2 separate regions of the Homo sapiens genome follow, and region 1 is linked to region 2. The links come from fine-mapping of genetic effects on gene expression. Tissue or cell type: spinal cord. Region 2 holds a variant in brackets; the other region holds the start of a gene. All regions are shown on one strand. Distances are from middle to middle.

What was found. PIP is the estimated chance that this variant, and not a neighbour inherited with it, causes the effect.
Region 1: it holds the start of ADAM12, and the variant in region 2 is fine-mapped to the expression of ADAM12 in spinal cord (GTEx, PIP above 0.99).

The regions. Positions count from the first base shown.
Region 1 is chr10:126,383,375-126,391,553 of GRCh38, reverse strand. It overlaps ADAM12 (ADAM metallopeptidase domain 12), which reads left to right and starts at 3,077. Exons shown (of 23, transcript NM_001288973.2): 1 at 3,077-3,496. The coding sequence starts at 3,409.
Region 2 is chr10:126,196,963-126,205,141 of GRCh38, reverse strand. The region is part of intron 3 of ADAM12 (ADAM metallopeptidase domain 12); the gene reads left to right. Among named protein-coding and RNA genes, the nearest start is that of ADAM12, 190 kb to the left of the region's middle. RefSeq lists a silencer at 4,531-4,711. The variant T/C (reference allele first, on the strand shown) is at 3,212.

The sequences.
Region 1 (8,179 bases), 190 kb before region 2:
AATGCCCAGGCTGTTAAACGAAAATAGCACACAGGAAACAGTATTGCAAAGGTCAATTCTTCCAGAAAGGAAGGGACAACCAGCCATCTATCTGAAATTTTCGTGTGTAGATCCTGGCCTCTGACCCCACACCATTACCTAACAATCCAGTATTGAATGTGATGTCGGCTTCCATTTCCTGTGAATGAGGAGGCAGAATTTCCATCCAAAGACAGACCATCTGCCAGACGCAGGATTTGCTCTTTGCCTTAGCTGGCTGTTATTGATGTCTATGAAGGCTTTGTGGAGACAGTGTCAGCCCAGGCCGCTTGCTTCACAGAGATGGTGAATTACAGGGTTGAAATCCAGAGCTTGCAGCCAGGATTTTATTTTTCTTCATTTTTCCTCTGCAATGGCTGTTTTCTTTCGTTCAGTCAGAAACAAATCAAGGACAGTCTTGGGGCACATTTAGTTCTTTGGAGGAAGCTTTGCAACATCCAGGTTTAAAAGAAATTGGACTTTTACAGTCAACATTAACAATTGAATATGAAAGAGCGAAAATAAATTGATCATTAAGAGAAAATGTATACAAGGCCCCCAGCCCAGTGCACAGCACATGTTAGGTCCATTGTGAATAAACCATTTAACCAGTCAGAAGGATCCGAGAGGCCAGTGGCTGGGCTCATCTGCAAGCAAATCTGGCCCTTTGAGCTGGAAGAAAACAATTTTTAATTCTCTTGCGTCGATGTGTCTGAAGTTCTATGGGCCACAAGTATCAGGATCACCTAAGTACTTGCTAAAACTTGTCCTTCCCAGACCTTTCTAATGAGAATCTCCAGTGCAAACGCCAGAGGAATTGAATTCTTAACAGACATCCCAGGGATCAGGTGGGTTGGGAGACATTGCATTATTTCACCTGGTGCTCACAACCACCTGGGAGGTTTGTATTTTACCTTCACTTAACAGCTGCTAAAACTGAAGGTTGGAACTCAGCCTTAAAGAAACAGGCTTTATCTTTAACAGATCTGAGGTTGGGCTCTGACCTACTTCACTGTGTGGTGGTGGGAAAGCTACATCTCTATGCTGCAGTTTCCTCATCTGTATATTCAGGACTTAAAAAATGAAATAATGCAGGTGAAAGACGTTAGCACAATACTCCGATTATACGAGGTATGTAATGAATTATGAAGTAGTAAATAGTCTGTTTTCGTGCTGCTGATAAAGACATACACAAGACTGGGTAAAATTATACAGGAAAAACGTTTAATGGACCTACATTTCCACATGGCTAGGGCAGAAGACATGAAGGGGCAAGTCATGTCTTACATGGATGGTAGCAGGCAGAAAGTGAGAGAGAGCTTGTGGAGGGGAACTCCTCTTTTTAAAACCATCAGATCTTTTGAGACTTATCCACTACCATGAGAACAGCACAGGAAAGACCTGCCCCCATGATTCAATTACCTCCCACCAGGTCCCTCCCACAACACATGGGAATTCAAGATGAGATTTGGGTGGGGACACAGCCAAACCATATCAGTAAACAAGCCTAATCATTATTAACTAGGTTAAGTAACTAGCTCACACTGTCCAATAATGATGATTTATCAGTTTGATCAGAAAGAAAAGTCTTTGAAGGCAAGAGGCTTTCTCGTTTAGTTTCCCAAGTTCTAACATAGGGTTGCTCATGTAGATTGACTGAATGAATGAACAAAAGAAGTACACTGCAACGCTGGTTGGTAGTACGGTTAGATATGACACAGGGCTTGAACCAGGCCTGGTTTCCAGATCTGGTACTGAGATATGGCAGCATTGGGAAGGGGGCTGGAGAGCCTGTGCTTCCCACTAAGGTTTTTTAAAAAGAAAGTCCTGCACCTTGTTAGGAGGATCGACCTGGGTTTTGGGAACACTGCAAAACCTGCCGTGGGAGGGAACTCCTGAGAAAACTCCTCTGCAGTGGGAAGAGATGGTATGGAAGGCAGCTTCCTCAAATGCTGGATAACCGCCTCCTAGGAGTGGGTGCTCCGTCAGGAATCGGTGCGAGGTCGCAGGACCAGGATGGAATTTCTGCAGGTGGTCCTAGGTCTGAGCAGCACAGTAGAATCACCTGAGGCTTTGAAAACTATTGAGCTCCACGCATTGTGGGAAACTGAGTTAACTGGTGTCTGGGGCTGGCAATGTCTTTAACTCTTACTATTCTAATAAGTCCCCAAGGTTGGGAATCATGGTAACCCGCAGGGTGGGCATCAGCCATCCTCCATAGCTCCAGCCATTTCTGTCTGTGCGGGCCCCCTCGCTGCTGCTTTTCATGGTCTCCCTGAGGGCCGAGCGAGGCTGAAGAGGTGGGGTCAGCCCGGAACAAGGATGAGAAGGCAAGGCGCACCATTCTTTCATTGGTGTTTCTCCAAACACCCTGGGCTCCCCTGGCCTCACAGCCTGGAGAGTCTCATTCTGAAAGCGTAGGAGGGCGCCCGGGAATCTTTTTAACAAGCCAACCCAGGTGCTTCTTACAATCAGGAAAGTTTGGGGAACGTCACTGTACACCCTTTTCTGGGTCCAGGTCATGGAATGGAAACGTGAGCCAATCTATCAACGTAAAACCTAACACTGTTGATCAAAAGTAACGCCCAGGTGTCTTGTGCCTGCGAGTCCAAGCTTGTTTCTCGGGCGAGAGATGCCCCTTTGGGCGCTTAGGGCCGGGCGGGGTCGCGCGCCGGGCTGTGGGCCGCGGTGGAGACCTGACCCGCACTCCGAGGGTTCCCAGAGAGCCGGGGAGCGAGTAGCAGAGTCATCGTTTCCAGCTTCAGCCTGAAAAGCTGGACCGTGCCGCCGCATGTGCGCTTGGCAGCCGGGCGCCCCGGGCCCTGCGGCCACATCATCCTGGGGCGGGGACGTGTGCGCTCCGGGCGCCCGGACGCCACTGAGCCACGTCTGAGCCGCCCACCCTCGGGGGTGAGCGAGCCGCGGCTCGGGGCGGGACCCTGGCGGGGGGACCCGAGCGGTCTCTAGGACCCGCGGGACGCCGCCAACTGGCGGGGGTGCGGGGGAGACAATAATTTGTTCCGCGGTAATAAGAACGGTGACTGCTGGCCGTGGATCCATTTCACAGGCCTGCCTTCTCTCACTAACGCTCTTCCTAGTCCCCGGGCCAACTCGGACAGTTTGCTCATTTATTGCAACGGTCAAGGCTGGCTTGTGCCAGAACGGCGCGCGCGCGCGCACGCACGCACACACACGGGGGGAAACTTTTTTAAAAATGAAAGGCTAGAAGAGCTCAGCGGCGGCGCGGGCGCTGCGCGAGGGCTCCGGAGCTGACTCGCCGAGGCAGGAAATCCCTCCGGTCGCGACGCCCGGCCCCGGCTCGGCGCCCGCGTGGGATGGTGCAGCGCTCGCCGCCGGGCCCGAGAGCTGCTGCACTGAAGGCCGGCGACGATGGCAGCGCGCCCGCTGCCCGTGTCCCCCGCCCGCGCCCTCCTGCTCGCCCTGGCCGGTGCTCTGCTCGCGCCCTGCGAGGCCCGAGGTAAGTCGCCGAACTAGGGCGGCTCGCTGCCCGCCCCGCCGAGGGCACCGCACGCTGCGCCTGGGCGCGCCGAGGTCCAGGGCTGCCCCGAGGGGCGACGCGCCCCGGCGCATCTCCGGAGCCCCGGGGCTTGCGCTTCCAGCGCGGCGAGACCGACCCCCCCCCCCCAGGTGCCAATTCCTTGGGGAAGGGCGACACTTGGCCCGCAGCCCCACAGGAGCCAGTACCTGCCCCGGAGGGCACAGCCTCGGGACCGCTCCCCCGTCCTCACCCTCTTGGGTGACATTTGCAGATGTCTCTGTATCTTGACATTTACACGTGTCACTCGGGACGATGCGTGTCGGGTCCTCTTGCTGGCCCTATCCCGCAGTGAATATCCCCACCCCAGGCTCCGGGCCAGCCCTTCACCAGGTTTCCTTTCCAGCCCCGCCTCCCCCGCTAACACACTTAGGGGGGCGCGCAGCGGCCCCGCAGGTGAGGCAGCCCCCTCCTCCGCAGGTGTGCCTGCTGCTCTCCACAGCAGGCTCTATTTTCATAAACTGACTCTCTTACCTACTTCTTTAGTTTCCTCTCTGCCCCTCTTCCTGGCTTCCAGGTCACTCCCTAGCTGTCAGTCGCAGGCAAACTTTAGCGGAATTCTCCCTCCTTCCTCCACTCAGTTTCTCCGCCGTAAATAATCGCCCCCATCAACTTGGTGCACAGCGAGAACTTACTTAGTTTAACGTACTTAGTTTTACAGACTTAGGTTTTCCCGAGTTGTAGCCCCTTAAAATCGGGCACCTGTGGCTCCCGTTTGCACAGTGAGGACTCACCCAGCAGGTGCCTTTTTAAAAATCCGGCAACTTCCCCGGGTCTCCGCCGCCGCCGCCTTCTTTCTGCCGCCCGGGGCGCTGTCGGTCCACCGATGAACGACTTCCCTTGGCCGCAAGCTCTCAAGTTCTGTGATTCTATATAACAGGCATTTATTTTTCAACAACTGGCCTAAATCACGAACCGTTACCACTTTATGATACGTTTTATTTTGCGATTGCCACTGCTGCCCTCCGCCCCCACCGCGTCTACTGTAATGTGGCTAAAACCCAGTTCTTGTTAAAAGCCACACTGCGAAGACCAATTCGGGGATAAATGATTAAATACAAAGATTGCACAAAGCAATGAGAAAGTCAAGAAAGAATCCTGCTGAGGGTTTAAAGAACTCTACGACCTGTAGTGAATTGTGCTTTGAAAGACTTTTAAACAAATTGGTCCTTTTGAATGTTTATTAAGAAAGAACTTTTTAAAAAACGGAAAGTGTCTCAAAGTGTGCCTGACATGGTCTTTAACTTGGCACGTGCTTTGTACACATAAAGAGAAGTCTACTGAGCAGGGACAAATTTTTTTTTTGGAAGAAAATGTTTATTAAATCCAGCTAATAATGGGAAATTATTTCTTGTGTGTGTGGGCGGGGGAGGACTTTTACTATTTTATGAGTTCAGCTTTGGTAGAGAGAGTGTTTCCTTAAGACAGATATGACCCAAAATAGAAAACCAGGGAGGCCTAAGCACTTTGAATGGGTTACCTATTGTGATATATTCCAGGATTCACTGCTTGTTTACCCTTAGATTCTCAGTATCAAGTCTTCAATCAATCAGTGCCCCAAATCATACCATTGAGGCCGTATAAAACGCCAAACATATAATGAAACATTTCTTTGCATTGGCAAGAGAAAAGGAGGAATTACTACCTGTTGAGTCTGAGCATATTCTGAGTTTCTCCCTAGCCTTGTCTGTACCCTGAGCCCTGGCACAGTTGCCTACTTGGTACTTTCTGGGGCAACTCGGCCTAACAAGTCCAAAACAGAACCCTAGATCCCAGACTCTCTAGTTGCAAATCATTCCCTCCCCAGCCTTCCTGAACCCAGTAACAACCTCCTCTGCCTTCTCCACATGCCTTGTGCTGACATGCAGGAAGTCATCCCTGTGTCCCTCTTTTTACTCCGTAAGCCACCAACCTCCTAAGTATATTCCCACCTACCCACTTCCTTACATCCCGAAGTGTGCCTTTCCCAGTCCAGGCCACATTATAGGAAAAATCTCTTCTGCAGAAGCCTCTTATCCCTCTTACCCAACGGGCCTACTGGCTTTTCACCTTATCCCTGCATGGTATATTTTCCTCCACAATAGAGCCAAAGTTATTATTTTCAAACATGAGTTAGAGCATTCAAGTTTCCTGTCTAAAACTCCCCAGTGGCTCTCTAGCACCCTTAGGAAAGAAAATCCAAACCTCAGCATGACCTAATTCCTGTTTTCCTTTCTGATCTCCTTTCTTACCATTCTCCCTTTGCTCACCCTACTCCAGACACACTGCCTTCTCTTCTTTTCAACTACCCAATATAGTAGTGCCATCATTAAAAAAAAATTCAATGTTTGCACTAAGAAGACTTTGCAAATACTTTTCACTGTTTTGCCGTGCAGTGTTTTATGGCATTTCATCCCTCTTGTAACTTTTTGCTTTTCCTAGAGTTAATGATTGCCTTGTCTTGATTTTTGTTTGCTTTATTTTCTGTGCACCAAGCTGTGATATTGTGATATAATAAGAAATATGTCTCTGCCCCTGGTTCCTGGCACAGAACTCCTAAAATCCTTGGAATCTCTGGGGTATTAAGAGTGTCTTTTGTATGCTAATGAGCTTGTTAAGGCATGATTAGAGTTGGGACTTTTAGTGCCACCTCCCTTGCAACCTCCAGGGAGGGGAGACGGATTGAAGGTTGACTTGATCGCCAATGGTGTAATTAATCATGGCTGTGTAATTAGGCCTCCATAAACCCCCCAAAGGACAAGGTTTGTAGAATTTCCAGATTGCTGAGCAAATCAAAGTTCCTGGAGGGTGGCGTATCTAGAGAGGACACAGAAGCTCTGTATCCCTTTCCACATTCTCTGCCCTTTGCATCTCTTCCAACTGTTTTTCATCTGTGTCCCTAATTACATCCTTCATTAATATAATAAACTGGTAAATATAAGCAAGTGTTTTCTGTGGTTCTGTGAGCTTACCTAGCAAATTAACTGAACCTGAGAAGGGGGTTGTGGACCCCCAACTTATAGCTAGTTGGTCAGAAGTATAGGTGTGACAACCTACTACTTGTGATTGGCATCTGACATTGGGGGGAAGTCTTGTGGGACTGAGCCCTTAACCTGTGTGATCTGATGCTTTCTCCAGGTAGATAGAGTCAGAATAGAGTTAAATTGTAGGACTCCCAGTTGATCTCTACTGAAGAACTGGTGGTTGGTGGGGAGAAACTCCCACACATTTGGGTGACCAGAGGTGAAACATTCGGTACTGAGAGTGAGAGTAGGGAGAATACTTGGTTTTTGGTTTTTCCCATCCCTTACGCAACCTCTATTTTACTTCCACACTTTCTGGAAGAACTATCAACCTCCTTTCAATATGATCCAACACATCAGGTAGTCTAGCCATGATTTTTTTTTTCCTGATGTCATCTTTCCTAGAGCCCCTCATCCTCCTGTTCCAATGTGACTCACGGGTTACTTTTTAGGCATACATTACAGCTGTTATCTCAGGACTACCCTTATTACCAAGACGCTAAGAATTCCTCTTGCATCCTTCCTGTGTTGAATCATCTGTATTCTGAGCACTGTAAATTTTTCTTAGTTCATTCCTCATTTCTGTGGAGCACGTTTTCCAGTAACTTCCTGAGGATGGGTGTTGGGAAGATACAACTTTTTTTGATAACTTGTGAATATGTCAGGGATGCTTTCAGCTGCAAATAACAAAAAAACATGACAGCAGCAATTTTTACAAGCTCGTATTCTTTACAAGCAGTTGCAAAGTAAGTATTTTGGTGGCTGGTGTAACTGGTGTGTCAGGTCACTGATGTGATCGGGGACCCAAGCACTTTCTTTTATTTCTATCTGCGATACGTAGATGTTGACTTTTGCCTTTATGCTTACTTCCTCATGGTCTCATGATAGCTGCTGTACCTCTTGGCATCATATCTGCATTCCAGGCAGTAATACAGCAGAAAGGACAAAAGGCAGAACCAGTCAAATCTATTTTCATCAGGAAAATAATATTTCCATAAGCGTTTGTAGTAGATTTTGTCTTAGATATCATTGGCTAGACTGTGACCCAGGGCCCCTGCTAGCTTGTACAGAATACTAGAAAAGTAAATATTTTTAACTATGTACATTGCTGCTTCAAACAAAACAGTTCTGTGAGTAAAAACAAAGGTTGGAATGTGTCTCTGGCATACCTTGTATAAAATATATAGATAAACACACATTCATTCATTCCACCCTTGATTGCTAGTTTGTTTAGGTATAAAATTCCAAGAAAGAAATCATATTTTCTCAGTATTTTATAAGGCATTTCTTCAATGTCTCTATGGCCATTACTGCTTGAGAAGTTGATGGTATTCTGCTTGTCAAACCTTTAAATGTAGTCTTTTTTTCTTTTTGGAAGTGATTATCTTTTTTCGTTGTCACTAGTATTTTTGCGTTTTATGATTATGTGCTTTAGCAATGCTCTTATCAGTAATTGTTAGGAACTCAGTGGGCCCCTTCAGTTTGAATATTCATGTTGTCAAGTTTTAGTATACTTTCTTATATTCGTTCTTCAATTATTTCTTCCTCACTGTTTTTACCACAGCTTTTCTGAAACTGCTATTAGCTGAATGTCCCAGCCTCC
Region 2 (8,179 bases):
CCTGCTATGCTGTATGACAAAAGCCATTGGCATCCACAGATCACACAGTATTAGCTATGGAACTCCAGGGGAAAGGTACCATCTTTCCCAAGTACCTTCTGGAAAGACTTGGTGGTGTCCAAATGGCCTGGCTTCCGTCAGGTGCCTAGCCCCGAGCCAATCCACCCTGGCCAAGAACCTGGGGTTACTCTTGGCAAACGTGGTTCTCATGCCCATTCTTGTGACTGTGGGTGGGTTCCAACCTATCTAATCTACTTAGAATAGCGCAGAGTTGGGTAGTTGTGACAAAGACTGTGAGGCCTGGAAAGCCTGTAATATTTATGATCTGGCCTTTTACAGAAAAAATGTGCTACCCATTTGGTAGGTAAGATAAGCCCGTAAATAGGGCCACCTTCATGAATGTGCAGTCCGAGTGGTCACACAAGGCCTCACAGCTAGAAGGGCCCATGGTTGGTTTAATGCTCTGCTATCACCGTCTTTAAATTCTTAACAATTTATGAACAAAGGTGCCACATTTTCATTTGCGGTCTCTTGAGTTACTCATAGACTAAACGTTGAGGGATGAGAGGGATTTCCCAGAGGAAAATGCCCTGAAGAAAGGGCATGAAGCGGGAATCTGCTTTCTGTTCCATGTGAGTAACAGAATACCTGACCCAGAGTGACTCAGCAATGAGGAGCTTATTGTCTCACAGACACAGTCACCCAGAGGTGGCACTGCTAGGTGAGGCTAATTTAGCAGCTGACAGCACCTGCATCCTGGGCCAGCCTTTCTGCAATTCTCTGGGCTTTCTCCTAGTCACAGGTGATGGAAAGCTCCAGTTCCAAGCATCACATCTTCACCCAACAATGTCTAATGGAGGGGAAAGGGAAGCCATGTTTCCTCCCTTGTATTACGCTTCTTGTTAGGGAAGAAAATGTTTCTAGAAAGTTTCCCAGCAGATCCACTGACTGGAGCTGGCTGCCAGGGGTGGGGAGATTTCCATTTCTAGCCTCTGAAGTAGGAGGTGGCTTCTCCATGAGGAACCAGGGGCTGGAGATAGGAGCTGGGGGTTCAGCAGCCAAAGCATTCGCCACTGGCAGCCTTGCATTGGCAGCTCCTACTGTGAATAATTTGTTGCAGAATTCCTTCAACTCCTGGGTGAACTTCTGGGGACATTGAAAAGATGACTTAGTTTGGTTCACACACACACACACACACACACGCGCGCGCGCGCACTCACTCTGATTTGCTTGATTTCTCCAAGAATACATCTACCACAGAGAGTGAAGTCCACCACAGAGGGTGAAGTCCATCACAGGCAGCCACACTCCCAACACAGAACTGGGCCATAGCACAGTCTCTGTGGGTCACACTCTCACATTGCCCAAAGTTATGAAACTTATTTTTTTAAATAGTTCTGCTAAGCAGTTTCTGAAGAATTTGTGGGAGTAGGAAGGAAAATTTTACCTCAAAAGATATTTGATCAGATCCTGTCAGATAAGCAAAGGGTATTTAGGGTATGTTTGTGAAACATGATTTCTTATCTAAAAATTGAACAGCTCTTCAGTAAAATGGTATTTGATGCTTTGATAGAGTTTATGCCCAAATCATTTTTCTTCCTGACTTCTGTATTTCTGCGTGTTTATGCTTCTATATTTATTCAAAAAGAACGTCTGAAATGTGTAAAACATAATTTTTCTTGGCTGAAGCACCTCCATTCCACACAGGAATTTCACTATACTTGCTTTTTATAAAATAAAACGTCTGTTGCAATATTTACCTTAAATATGATTTTAGTAACAACTGAACCAAGCTATTTCTTCTCCTTCAGACTATAATTCTTTCCAATAGGTGTTGGTAGGAAGGCATAGACATATTAATATGCATGTCAAATAAAGAATACTTTCTAGTTTCTTATAGGAAATTACTACTACAATCCCTATAGATTAAATAAAATGTACACTCTGATTAGTTATTAAGGTAAGAAACTTTCAGTTTAGAAATAAAGGTTTTTTGTGGTTTTTACTGAATTAAAAACCTGACCATCGCTGTCTCCATAATTCATTCTTCCTTCCTTACTCCTTCGCTGATGACAACTAGTTGGGCACCTGAACTTTCACAAAAGATGTCCAGTTAAAAGGAGCCAGTATGGAACTTTGTACACAATTTCCCCTGTATTCTACTATCTGCAACAATGTGAAACTTTTTAATTTTAATTTTTAATTTCAATGTGAAATAAAAAGTCTTGAAAGGAGACATTTTTTTCTTTCGGTGGTTTAAAGATCGAGTCTCACTTTGACCTTCGGAAAAATGTTAGAGCATTTCAGAGACACGTACGTCTGCGAACCTGCAGTGATTTGGGGACTTTATACAACTTGAAGCCACTTGAGTTCTGTAGACACTCAGAGATTATGAGAATTCTGTTGATATGAAGCTCTTTTGCCTCTTGGCCCCGGCAAAATTGTACGTTGTGAGTAGTTTGTATTTTTAGTTGAAGGTTTTGCTTTGGAGTTCAACTGCAATTTTACTTTCGTTGTCATCTTAAATCTGTAATTTTGAGAGAAAGTTTTTAAAAATATCTTCAATCCACTGCAGCAATTATTCTGACTGCAGAGTGACCTTTATCTTCTTCTGGTTAAAGAGAGAGAGAGAGAGAGAGAGAAGTAGTAGAGCATTTTGGGGTTTTTCAAACCCTCGGATTACAGGGTAGGACACCTCAAGATACAAAAGCAAGATTTTCAGACTTCGTAATGTCATTGGATAGTCATTAAATTTATACAAAATTACAGTTCAGTGAACTTAAGGATAGGCTGAAAAAGGTAAAAGTGGTAATAGTCAGAAAGGCTGAAATCTGGAATCAATTAACTGAAAACAAATTAACCAACAATTATGGTATGCCCTGTTTATTTTTCTAAAGATCTTGAAATAAAGCAAAAGTTTTCCACAGGTACTAATAGCTAGAAACCCATGGGAATAAGTTTCGGAGTAGAACTTCCCCACATGGGGTGGATCTCCAGCCACAGTGGAAGAAGAATCGACTGAGATGTTTGGAAGTTTTAATTGCCAAGGCATTAAGACAAGAGTGAATGGAAGTGGACAAGGAGGCCTGGCACTGGTGCTGTACATCCTGTGCGTTGCAGCCCCAGAGCCTTTCCACTGGACGAGCTCTGACCTTGCAAAAAGAAGGCCCGCCCATTCTTTCCCTGGACGTTCTTTATGTGAACGACAACG[T/C]TGCTGAACTAGCCTGCTGCCTCTCTCTGGGGCAGGCCTCTCTGCTCGAGGTAGAAGGTCTTGCTCAGAGCCAACACCTCTCTGTTTTTGTTTCTGCCTGGTCTTTCTTTCTATCAATGGGAGCACCTCGGTTCTCTGGGTTCTTACCACTTCCCTTTTTCTTTCTTCATTTCACCGTTGTATCTCCAGGTCTTTGATCCACTCTAAGAATGGCTTCTCAGCTCTGTTCCTTGTCACCACCACTCTCTCATCTGGTGACTACATCATGTCTTCCCTGTACATTGCCAGTTCCCCATCTCCCAGGGCTGCTGTAATGAAGCACCACAAACTGAGTGGCTTCAAACAACAGAAACTCGGTCTCTCGCAGCTCTGGAAGGCAGAAATCCTAAATCCAGGACTTGTGACTTCTGGCAGGGCCACGTTCCCTCCCAAGGCTCTGGGAGGAACCCTTCCTCGCCTCTTCCAGCTTCTGGTGCTTGCCTGGGGTTCCCTGGCGTTTTTGGCTCGTGGCAACAACACTCCAGTCTCTGCCTCCCTTGTCACTTGGCCTTTTCCCCTGTTTCTCTTCTGTATCTCTGTTTCGTCTCATGGCAGCCTCCTCTCTGCGTGCCTGTGTTCAAATTTCCCTCTCCTTGTAAGGCCCACACTACTCCAGTATGACCTCAACTTAGCTTGGTTACGTCTGCAAAGAACCTATTTTTAAATAAAGTCACCATCACAGGTGCCGGGAAGTAGGAGTTAAACGTATCTTTTTGGAAGGACGGTTCAACCCACGGCACACATCATGTTATCCTTTCTCAAATGATCCCTTTTTCTCACTCCGTTGTTCAATAACCATTTGGCCTGTGGAAGAAATTCTGACTACTTTAGCCTGATGCTCATACTCTTTTCCAGCCTGGACAACCCCACCTTTCTAGGATCACGTCCTATTACCTCCCATATGAGAAATTTATGCCCTGCCCAGACTGGTCTACTGTTTCTAGAACATTCCATGTGCCATTTACAATATCTGTGCCTTTGCTTACAGCATCTCTGTTGCTTTGATTTAACCACCACCACCACCCTGCCCCCATCACGTACACAAAATCTAAGTCCTAACAACTCTCCAACGTCCATCTCAAACCACATCCTGGGCTCTTTCTCTAGAGTCTTGGAGACTCCAACCTATTGAGAATCCTCTCTCCTTTGAACATTCTGAACCATTTAGAGCTTCTCATCTGGTGCTTTGTTGCTGCTGATGTTGCTCTTGCCATAAATAGCTAACGTTCCTGGAGAGTTCACTGGGCACCGTAACTGAGCTCTTTGCACACATTATCTTATTGGCACCCCACGGCAGCTCCACAGTGTGGGAACCATTATATCGTGGTGTTGTCGATTAAGATGCTGAGGCTGAGGGAGGCAAATCCCTTGCCCAAGATCTCACCAAGTAGTGGGAGATGGAGACAGGAGTCGTGCTGATTTTTCTGACTCCAAAATTCTGGTTTTTAACCTCCAAATGCTCCTGCTTTTATTGGTGTTGGTTACTGTTCAATTTCATTTTCATAATTAGAGCATAAACTTCCTGAGCCTTGAGACCATACTTGAAGGCATCTGATCGTGTTTGGGGATCAATGTCATGGTTATTAATCTGTTACTCCATTTTCAAAGACAAAAACCATTGAGTTAACTGAAGACCTAGGAAGTCTGGAGTCCTTCCTGCTCCCTCCTAGTGCCCTCAGACCATCCAGTCCCCGTGTGAGCTGCACTTCTTGCCAACCTTAACAGCTTGCACCTGTTCCACCTCATTATGTGGCCCAGGTCAGACCCTGCATGGAAATACCAATTCATAGAATATTCTAATTAATAGAACAGTGAATATTAAAGAGCATCTCGTAGGTGGTAATTGTCTGGTAACTAGTGTGTAAGTCACTGTCCTTCCTTCTGTTGATGGACTATATACATAGGTCATGGTGCGTGTGGAAGACCCCATTGAGTGCCTGTATTTTGTGCCAGTGGGCTTTTGTTTTTGTTAGTCAATCATTTGACCAAAAAGCATTGCTTTGATCAGGTGCACACTGTCTATGTTTGTTAATAGAACAAACCTTAATGCCTTTCTCAAGGTCATGCACAATCTCAATTAGCTAGAGAGACAGGGATAGGATGACTTATTTTAAAAGAATGCATCCTTATTCTTTCATTATCAGGGAATATTACTGACATGTACAGAAACTTTATATGTATTCCATTTGTAATTCTAAATGTTTATTTTTCTCTGATTTAGTAAAATAACTCACTGAAGTCTAAAAATGAAAACCTGGTTTTGTTTAGATGTGTAAGACGGTCCGAGACACACTCTGGGAAGCAGCAGCAGCTTCCCACAGACAGGGTCACATGATGCATGGGGCTGATGACACTTGATGAGCAGAGGTTTATGGGAGCGTTTCTGCGGTAGAATCCCAACGCATTAGCTGGAGGCCAGGAGGGGCTGCGAACTTGACAATATGGCTGAGTCATGGGTAGTCGTTGAAATTGGCTGGTGGCCGTTATGCCTAAAATGACTCATGCACTGCAAGCAGATATGATTGTTGGCATGACTTGAAATGAACACCGGCCATTTCAGCGGGATGGTCAGGCCCGCTGATCTCGATGGTGATTAGGTGGATAAGTTTTCAGCAGGGCTGGGTTGCCTCATCCTCCTGTCATTGTCCAAGGCTTTGAAATCACTTTTTCTTACACTTTACTGAATCATCTAGATAATTGCCCCAAACGAAACCTTCATTCAGGTGGTTAGTCTAAACTTATTGGGGTCTTCAACCTGGTAAGCAGGTAGTTTTAAAGTGAGACTGAGGACTTGACTACATAACTTAAATTCCTTATTCCTAGGGCCCCAAAAGCACAAAGCTCACCATAAAAAGACACAGATGCCCTGAAAGAAATTTCTGGAATCTACAGGCCTTCTGCTCAAGCCTACCTTCCTTACTCTTTGATATCAGATAGTGGTAATAAAATGGGACATATTTCTGATATACTGGGAAAAGTCATTTCTTCCCCTCTTGAAAAATGTTCTCCTCTTTTCTCACCACAGCTGGGAGTTTCTAATATGAATAAAGTGCCAGGAATTTGGCAGTAACAGTATATTCATAAATACACATGAAATTTGGTGGGGTTTAAAGAAAAATAAAATGGAAAGAGCATATTGTCAGGTTTAAGCACAGACCTACCTTGAGATGAAAACTGAGTCTGTTTGTAATGGTTGTTCATTTGCTTTGCAAGGATGCGTGCCAGGCACTCAGCCTCATCCAGAGGTGCAGGCAGAGATCCCCGGCACCCACAGCTGGGTAGGAGCAGCAGGGGAGGTGCTGGATCTCTGTCTTCAGGCCCAGAAACAGAAGCTGCAGGATTCACACGAGCTAAAGGCTACACTGGCCCTGGTTGCACATTTTGCGTCCACAAACCAGATAGCAAATATTTCACTGCAAGAGCCGGTGAAATGCAGAACATATGGCCCCTCCCAATGGCTCCAGGAGCTGGAGACAAATCCAGCATGTGGGTGATGAGACTTGCCGGGCCCTTCTGGTCTCTCTCCTGGTTGTGTAAATTCTGTCGTCTTACACTTCATTAGACCAGAAAAAGGTACAGACCTTCCTGATAGCGTGACCTCCCCTCTGCCATGGCAGGGTTGAGATTCAGTCTTTGAAATGTGTCTACTGATGCCGGAGAGCATGGGCGTCTGCAACGGTGACTGACCCCTCTCCTGTCCTGCATCTGCACCTCCCACAGGGGGCTTTCCAGGGAGGGCCGTGGACTCAAGGGAGGAGAGCAAGGCCCGTAGTGGCTGTCCATCTTGACTGAACACCAGCCCCAACCCATGAGGAGATACCTGGTTTGCATCTTCACGCTTCTTAGGAAACAGTGATGTTAATTTGGAACACATGTCTTTGTGTGGAATGAAGAACTGTAATTTCACATTGAAGCCCCAGTCCCTTCCCTCTCCCATTCCTGCAGTTCACGGAGGTGATGTCACCCCATGCGTGGTGGAGACTTAGGCCTTCCACGTACCACCCGCTGTCTGGGGCTTTCAGGCCTGTGAAGCATTTTCTTGCTTCTTCTCCACTCATAACCTCCCTCCCTTCCCAAAGATGTCCCTACCAGCATCACTTCTCTCTGTCACATGGCCACCTAAGTATCTTTACTTCAGCCTCCAAATTCATTGACTATTTGTTGGGCACCAGTGATATATAAATACCAAATGCAGCCAGGCAGGCTCCTGCATGCCAAACCCAGGTCTGTTTCTCAGGCTTACCTCTGTGTCCTCAGATGCTCAACCATCCGGCCTTCCTTAAATCAGTCATTTAGTTCCCAGCAATGAGAAATTCCCTGACTTCCATTCCATCTTTGTGCTGCTCCTCTTCGGACTCCTGGCTTGGTTGTGCTTCCTCTGCAACCCCAGGAGGGAAGCACACGACTGTCCTCTCCCACAGGGTCACTCACAGTCTTGCTGTGGACCTCCTGTGGTGCACAGCCTCCAGGCTGCATCACCAAAACCCTCAACTTGCCTCCCTTCCGCTCAAGCCTGGGACATGTATCCCGAGCTTGTTCTATGTTCTGGGCACCAGGCTCGGCCTCAGGGATTCGAGGACAGATCAGATGCAGCTGGCTTCTTCCAGAGTTCACCAATGGACTTTGTCCAAAAGATGCCTTGTCACTCCCTGTAGGGGCCCTAGTCAGTGCCCTTTCCAACCAGCTCATCTTTGCTTCGTCATCTCTAAGTCTGTCTTTACAAATAGCTCCTCACCTAGCCATGTCTTCCACACCACCCCTGCCTCCACCTGGGACCGTGTCTTCTTTATCTCAGGTCTGGATTGCACGGCAGATTTCTACTTCTTTCTCTTCTTCCCATCTTAAAGCCACAGCAGCTCCCTCTTACCCAAAATGATGGGTCAAATTTGTCAGCCCGGCTTCCAAGGCCTCTATACCCTAGATCCCCTG